Homo sapiens: one gene and its partner. The protein of the gene in region 1 interacts with the protein of each later gene in a pairwise test. Each region holds a gene or a part of one and is shown on either strand. Other genes may lie near its edges.

Region 1 (3,500 bases):
GAATATTCACAATCAAGAAGAATTTTTAAAACTCCTAATCTCAACCCCCAGCCAGGAGCAAGCTCTTAGAGCTCTTGGAGAGGTGTGCTGTGTTTCTGTGTATTGTGTGCATAGATTTTCCCGTTTTACATTTTATATCACCCATGCTGCTTTATGTGACTTTTCATGCTTTACACATGCAGACGCCCTGGCATGCCAGTCACTGGCATCTGCTGCTGCTGGGTACAGTGTGGCTGTGAAGAGCATGGAGCCTGGAGCCAGATGGCCTGGGCTTGAATCCTGGCTCTGCCACCTAACAGCCACTAACAGCTGAGTGACCCTGAGCAAACTACTTCACTGTCTATGTGTGGGTTCCCCATCTGTAAAACAGGAGTCATGATCGTACTGACACCTTTGAAGGTGGTGTTGGGCCTACTGCTGCTATCACCAATGAGAAAAATAAATAAAAAATAAAGTTGTCTGGAGAAGTGACAATATGTGAAAAGAGATTTCTATACCGTCTGGCCGAAAATAAGGGCAATATAATGTGTTCGCCCTTATTCATTGAAGTAATTTTAAGAAAAAAAATATTTGGTGGTTTAATAATTAGAAAGTAAATTACTAAATTAATAAAAGAAACTATCTTGGCTGGTTATATGGGCTTTTGCCAGTAATCCCAACCCTTTTTTTTTTTTTTGAGACAGAGTCTTGCTCTGTCACCCAGGCTGGAGTGCAGTGGCACAATCTCGGCTCACTGCAGCCTCCGCCTCCCAGGTTCAAGCAGTTCTGCCTCAGCCTCCCGAGTAGCTGGGACTACAGGCGCCCGCCACCATGCCTGGCTAATTTTTGTATTTTTAGTAGAGATGGGGGTTTCACTGTGTTAGCCAGGCTAGTCTGGAACTCCTGACCTCAAGTGATCTGCCTGCCTCGGCCTCTCAAAGTTGTGGGATTACAGGTGTGAGCCACCGCGCCTGGCCAGTCCCAACACTTTGAGAGGCTGAGGCAGGAGGATCATTTGATCCCAGGAGTTCAAGAGCAGCCTGGGCAACATGGTGAGACTTTGTCTCTACAAAAACAATTTATTGAATTAGCCAGGTGTGGTGGTACTCACCTGTGGGTCCCAGCTACTCAGGAAGTTGAGGCAGGAGGAGTTGCTTGAGCCCCAGGAGTTAGAGACTGCAGTGAGCAAGCCTCGACTGTGCCCTTGCACTCCAGCCTGGGCGACAGAGCAAGACCCCATCTCAACAACAACAAAAAGAGACTGTCTAGACAGAAAGTGCGATGTTATTCAGGTTTTATAGACTTTTTAAAAAGAACTCTTATTGCCCTGATTATAAAACAATCTTTAAAACCCAGAAAATACTAGAAAGTATAAAAGAAGAAAATTAGCATCTCCTGTCAGCCCCAGCCCATCAAGGATGGCTGTTCGTATGAGCCCTCTGACGTGCCTACACGTGTACATGATATTGCTGTAAAAGGGGTCATAGTCCTAATGTGTTCAGCATCATGGCCAATGGCTACAGCATCTTTCTTCAAATGACGCCACGTCATGAGTTAGCCTGTCCTTTATTGTTGGATATTTCGGTTGCTTGCAACTGGTCTCTGTTAAAAAAGTCTCTGGCCCAGCCCAGATGGTGAACTCTTTTGGCCAAGTCTGGATAATTTGAAGTCAGGTGGAGACCTCTGCTCACTGTCTCCTCCTGACCCTTAACCCCACCACCCACAATGCACCAGGTCTAATTGGTAGCTGCACCAATTCAAGCTATGAAGATATGGGGCGCTCAGCAGCTGTGGCCAAGCAGGCACTGGCCCATGGCCTCAAGTGCAAGTCCCAGTTCACCATCACTCCAGGTTCCGAGCAGATCCGCGCCACCATTGAGCGGGACGGCTATGTGAGTGCCCATATCCCCCTGCCCATCTCCCCCACCCCATGCTGAGTAATGCCTCCAGGCGGCACAAGCCCAGAGGCCTGTTGGGCCGGGGCTGGGGCAGGTCCCAGTGGCTGCCCTGGGGTTCCAGTACAGCACTTCGTCCTGCAGCCACCACATCACCCCTTCCCATCAGACTCTCACCCACCCTTGACATTCTGTCTTCCTCTCTCCCTGGCAGGCACAGATCTTGAGGGATCTGGGTGGCATTGTCCTGGCCAATGCTTGTGGCCCCTGCATTGGCCAGTGGGACAGGTAAGAGGCGTATCTTTTGACAAGACAGCCCCTTGTGCACAGGGTACAGAGCCCCAGAAGTTGGAGGGGGAATTATTGGGGTGGAGAGAAGAGACTCCAGCCAAGGTCTCTAGCTCCAGGGACTCTTGCCCATTAGAAGCCTCTGGCAGACATGCCTGGGAAGAGGGGCTGGGTGAGGAAGGGCCCTGCAGAGGCACTGGGGGGCAACTTGGCTGAAGCCTGGGCTGGCAGGAGGAAGCCAGCGCGGCCTCACCCTGACGGACACAGCAGGAGCCGTTTGGGAGGAGGCAGTGCCCCAGGTCAGGAAACTCAGGCCTTGACCAAGGCCTTGCCTCTGGCTTACGTGTGGTTGCAGGCTGGGCCCAGTGATCCTGAGGTTCCCTTCTGCTCTGCGCGTGGCCCCAGGAGGAGGCAACCCTGGCAGGGCCTCTTCATTTTCCCTCGGTAGGAGCTAGGCTGGGCTGCGCCACAGGAACCCAGCTTATCTGTCCTCGGGACAGGCCAGGTGACAAGGCCAGATATCCCTAACCCTGATCCCTCTGACCTGGCAGGAAGGACATCAAGAAGGGGGAGAAGAACACAATCGTCACCTCCTACAACAGGAACTTCACGGGCCGCAACGACGCAAACCCCGAGACCCATGCCTTTGTCACGTCCCCAGAGGTGAGACTGCCCAGCTGCGCACAAGCCTGGGATGGCCTCTGGGGGTCCCTGGCGGGTCAGAGGAGGAGGCAGAAGGAGATGGGGACTGGGGTCATCCAAGTGGTAGCCAGGAGCTACAGGCCTTCCCAGCCTCAGGCGCATGCTTGGTGCTTCCTGCCTGGGGCTCCCTGGGTCATGGGATTATGAGATATTTATACAGTGGTTTGTGCTTATGAGCATGGAATTTGGAATCTCACTCACTGCCTAGGACACATCCCAGCCCTGCCTCTAACTCGCTGTATGAGTGTGGCCAAGTCACTTACCTTCTCTGTGTCCCCGTAATCCTCGGGATTACCTGGGAAAGTGCGTGGGACACATGCAGTTTCCAACCCCAGGTAGGAGTTCCACAAAAGCGAGGCCTTTGCCATTGTTCCCGTGGCCAGAGTGAGCCTTGCCCTTGGCGGTATTCAGCCCTGGCCGTGACTGGCACATGGCCAGGCTCTCTTGACTTGGTTGTTTATCTGCGTGTTCTACAAATATGTCTTGCTAAATGGGTGAAGGAATGGCTCCTTCCATGTTTTTAGTGTCCTGCGCACTGAGCAGGTTTGCATCATACCAGCATTTCTGCGCCAGGGCCCCCACTCCCTCCAGGATAGCTGTGAGGAGAGAGAACAGCACTGCCGGCCCGGCCCTGCA
Region 2 (3,500 bases), on another chromosome or scaffold:
AATAATAATAATAATTAATCAGGCATGATGGTGTGCACCTGTAGTCCTAGCTACTTGGGAGGGTGAGGTGGAGGGTTGCTTGAGCCCAGGAGATGGAGGCTGCAGTGAGCTGGGAAAGTGCCGCTGCAGTCCAGTCTGGGCTACAGAGCCAGACCCTGTCTCAAAAAATAGTAATAATATAGTAATAATATTATTGTGGCCCGACATGGTGGCTCACGCCTGTAATCCCAGCACTTTGGGAGGCTGAGGCAGGTGGATCACCTGAGGTCAGGAGTTCGACACCAGCCTGGCTAACATGGTGAAACCCCATCTCTACTAAAAATACAAAAATTAGCCAGGTGTGGTGGCATGTACCTGTAATCTCAGCTACTTGGGAGGCTGAGGCAGGAGAATTGCTTGAACCCAGGAGGCGGAGGTTGCAGTGAGCCGAGATCATGCCACCACACTCCAGCCTGGGCAACAGAGCAAAACTCTGTCTCAAAAAAAATAAATTATTGCTATGATAGATTATGTCGCTTCCTTGCTCAGCACCCTCCTATAGCACCTGTCTCATTTGGAATAAATGATGATGTCCTTGCGTTGCCCACGTGGCCCTACATGCCGTGGCCCCTGATAACTGTTTTTCATTTGTTTTGTTTTGTTTTGTTTTTTTCTTTTTTTGAGATGGAGTCTTGCTCTGTTGCCCAGGCTGGAGTGCACTGGCATGATCTCAGCTCACAGCAACCTCCGCCTCCCTGGTTCAAGTGATCCCTCCTGCCTCAGCCTCCTGAGTAGCTGGGATTACAGGCGTCCACCATCACTCCAGGTTATTTTTGTGTTTTTAGGAGAGATGGGGTTTCACCATGTTGGCCAGGCTGGTCTCAAACTCCTGACCTCAGGTGATCCACCCACCTTGGCCTCCCAAATTCCCGTGATTACTGGCATGAGCCACTGTGCCCGGCCCCTGATGACTCTGCTATTGCCTCTCACCCTCTCCCTCTGGCAGATTCCACTCCAGCCACACTGGGCTCCTTGCTGTTCTTGGACATGACCGTCATGTTCCCACCTCAGGGCCTTTGCACTGGCTGTTCTCGATGCCTGAAACACTCTTCCCCCAGATCTCGATGCATCTCTCCCACTGTTCCTTCAGATTTTTATGCAAATGTCACCTTCTCAAGAAGCCTTCCCTGACCATGCCTGTACAACTCCAACATAGCCAGCTTCCCTGTGTGATATTTTTCCCATAGTATTTATTATCTTCTAAAATACTGTGGATTTTGGATTTTGCTCATTTCTTTCTTTCTTTTCCTATTTTTTTTTATTTTTTGAGACAGAGTCTCTCTCTGTCATCCTGGCTGGAGTGCAGGGGTATGATCAAGCTCACTCAATCTCCTGGGCTCAAATGATTCTCCCACTTCAGCCTTTTCGGCAGCTAGGATCACAGGCACGCATGACCATGCCTGGCTATGTTTTAAAAAATTTTCGTAGAGATGGGGTCTCCCTATGTTGCCCAGGCTGGTCTAGAACTCCTGACCTCAAGTGATCTTCCCACCTTGGCCTCTCAAATCGTTGGGATTACAGGCCTGAACCACCGTGCCCAGCCCCAATATTCCAATGTACTAGGGTTCTGGCATTGTAATATTCTAGAATTCCAAGATGCCACTTCTAACAACACTAAGTTCTAGAATTCCAATTTTTTTTTTTTTTTTTTGAGATGGAGTCTCACTCTGTCTCCCAGGCTGGAGTGCAGTGGTGTGAGCTCAGCTCACTGCCACCTCCACCTTCTGGGTTCAAGAAATTCTCAGCCTCCCAAGTAGCTGGGATTACAGGTGCCCGCCACCACACCCAGCTAATTTTTGTATTTTTAGTAGAGACGGTGTTTCACCATGTTGGCCTGTCTTGAATTCCTGACCTCAAGTGATCCACCTGTCTTGGCCTCCCAAAGTGTTAAGATTACAGGTGTGAGCCACCACACCCGGCCTAGAATTCCAATATTCTAAAGCACTGGAGTCCTTATGACGCAATATTCCAGTTTGCAAGGTGCTGGTGGGCCGGGCTGATGGACACCCTAGATCTCCAGGGCCATGGAGTTTCCTCCTCTGAGTTTTCATCGTCTTTCTCTCCTGCCCAGACACCAGGAGCCTGAATGGGGAACGATTCTGTCAGCTACGAGTATGGGGATTACAGCGACCTCTCGGACCGCCCTGTGGACTGCCTGGATGGCGCCTGCCTGGCCATCGACCCGCTGCGCGTGGCCCCGCTCCCACTGTATGCCGCCATCTTCCTGGTGGGGGTGCCGGGCAATGCCATGGTGGCCTGGGTGGCTGGGAAGGTGGCCCGCCGGAGGGTGGGTGCCACCTGGTTGCTCCACCTGGCCGTGGCGGATTTGCTGTGCTGTTTGTCTCTGCCCATCCTGGCAGTGCCCATTGCCCGTGGAGGCCACTGGCCGTATGGTGCAGTGGGCTGTCGGGCGCTGCCCTCCATCATCCTGCTGACCATGTATGCCAGCGTCCTGCTCCTGGCAGCTCTCAGTGCCGACCTCTGCTTCCTGGCTCTCGGGCCTGCCTGGTGGTCTACGGTTCAGCGGGCGTGCGGGGTGCAGGTGGCCTGTGGGGCAGCCTGGACACTGGCCTTGCTGCTCACCGTGCCCTCCGCCATCTACCGCCGGCTGCACCAGGAGCACTTCCCAGCCCGGCTGCAGTGTGTGGTGGACTACGGCGGCTCCTCCAGCACCGAGAATGCGGTGACTGCCATCCGGTTTCTTTTTGGCTTCCTGGGGCCCCTGGTGGCCGTGGCCAGCTGCCACAGTGCCCTCCTGTGCTGGGCAGCCCGACGCTGCCGGCCGCTGGGCACAGCCATTGTGGTGGGGTTTTTTGTCTGCTGGGCACCCTACCACCTGCTGGGGCTGGTGCTCACTGTGGCGGCCCCGAACTCCGCACTCCTGGCCAGGGCCCTGCGGGCTGAACCCCTCATCGTGGGCCTTGCCCTCGCTCACAGCTGCCTCAATCCCATGCTCTTCCTGTATTTTGGGAGGGCTCAACTCCGCCGGTCACTGCCAGCTGCCTGTCACTGGGCCCTGAGGGAGTCCCAGGGCCAGGACGAAAGTGTGGACAGCAAGAAATCCACCAGCCATGACCTGGTCTCGGAGATGGAGGTGTAGGCTGGAGAGACATTGTGGGTGTGTATCTTCTTATCTCATTTCACAAGACTGGCTTCAGGCATAGCTGGATCCAGGAGCTCAATGATGTCTTCATTTTATTCCTTCCTTCATTCAACAGATATCCATCATGCACTTGCTATGTGCAAGGCCTTTTTAGGCACTAGAGATATAGCAGTGACCAAAACAGACACAAATCCTGCCCTCAGGGAGCTGATATTCTTCTAGTGGAGGAAGACAGACTATAAACAAAGATATATAGGGCCATTTGCGGTGGCTCACGCCTGTAATTCCAGGGCTTTGGGAGGCTGAGGCAGGTAGATCACTTGAGGTCAGGACTTCAAGACCAGCCTAGCCAATATGG

Evidence for each region.
Region 2: the proteins of ACO2 (region 1) and C5AR2 interact in a two-hybrid assay, tested with the Homo sapiens proteins (one large-scale study listed by BioGRID and IntAct).

What each region holds. Positions count from the first base shown.
Region 1 is NC_000022.11:41,521,117-41,524,616, forward strand, and holds part of ACO2 (aconitate hydratase, mitochondrial precursor), read left to right. Parts: intron 1-1,713; coding exon 1,714-1,871; intron 1,872-2,088; coding exon 2,089-2,162; intron 2,163-2,713; coding exon 2,714-2,825; intron 2,826-3,500. UniProt on the Homo sapiens protein: Catalyzes the isomerization of citrate to isocitrate via cis-aconitate.
Region 2 is NC_000019.10:47,338,675-47,342,174, forward strand, and holds part of C5AR2 (C5a anaphylatoxin chemotactic receptor 2), read left to right. Parts: intron 1-1,812; exon of another isoform or gene 1,813-1,938; intron 1,939-2,110; 5' UTR 2,111-2,125; coding exon 2,126-3,139; 3' UTR 3,140-3,500.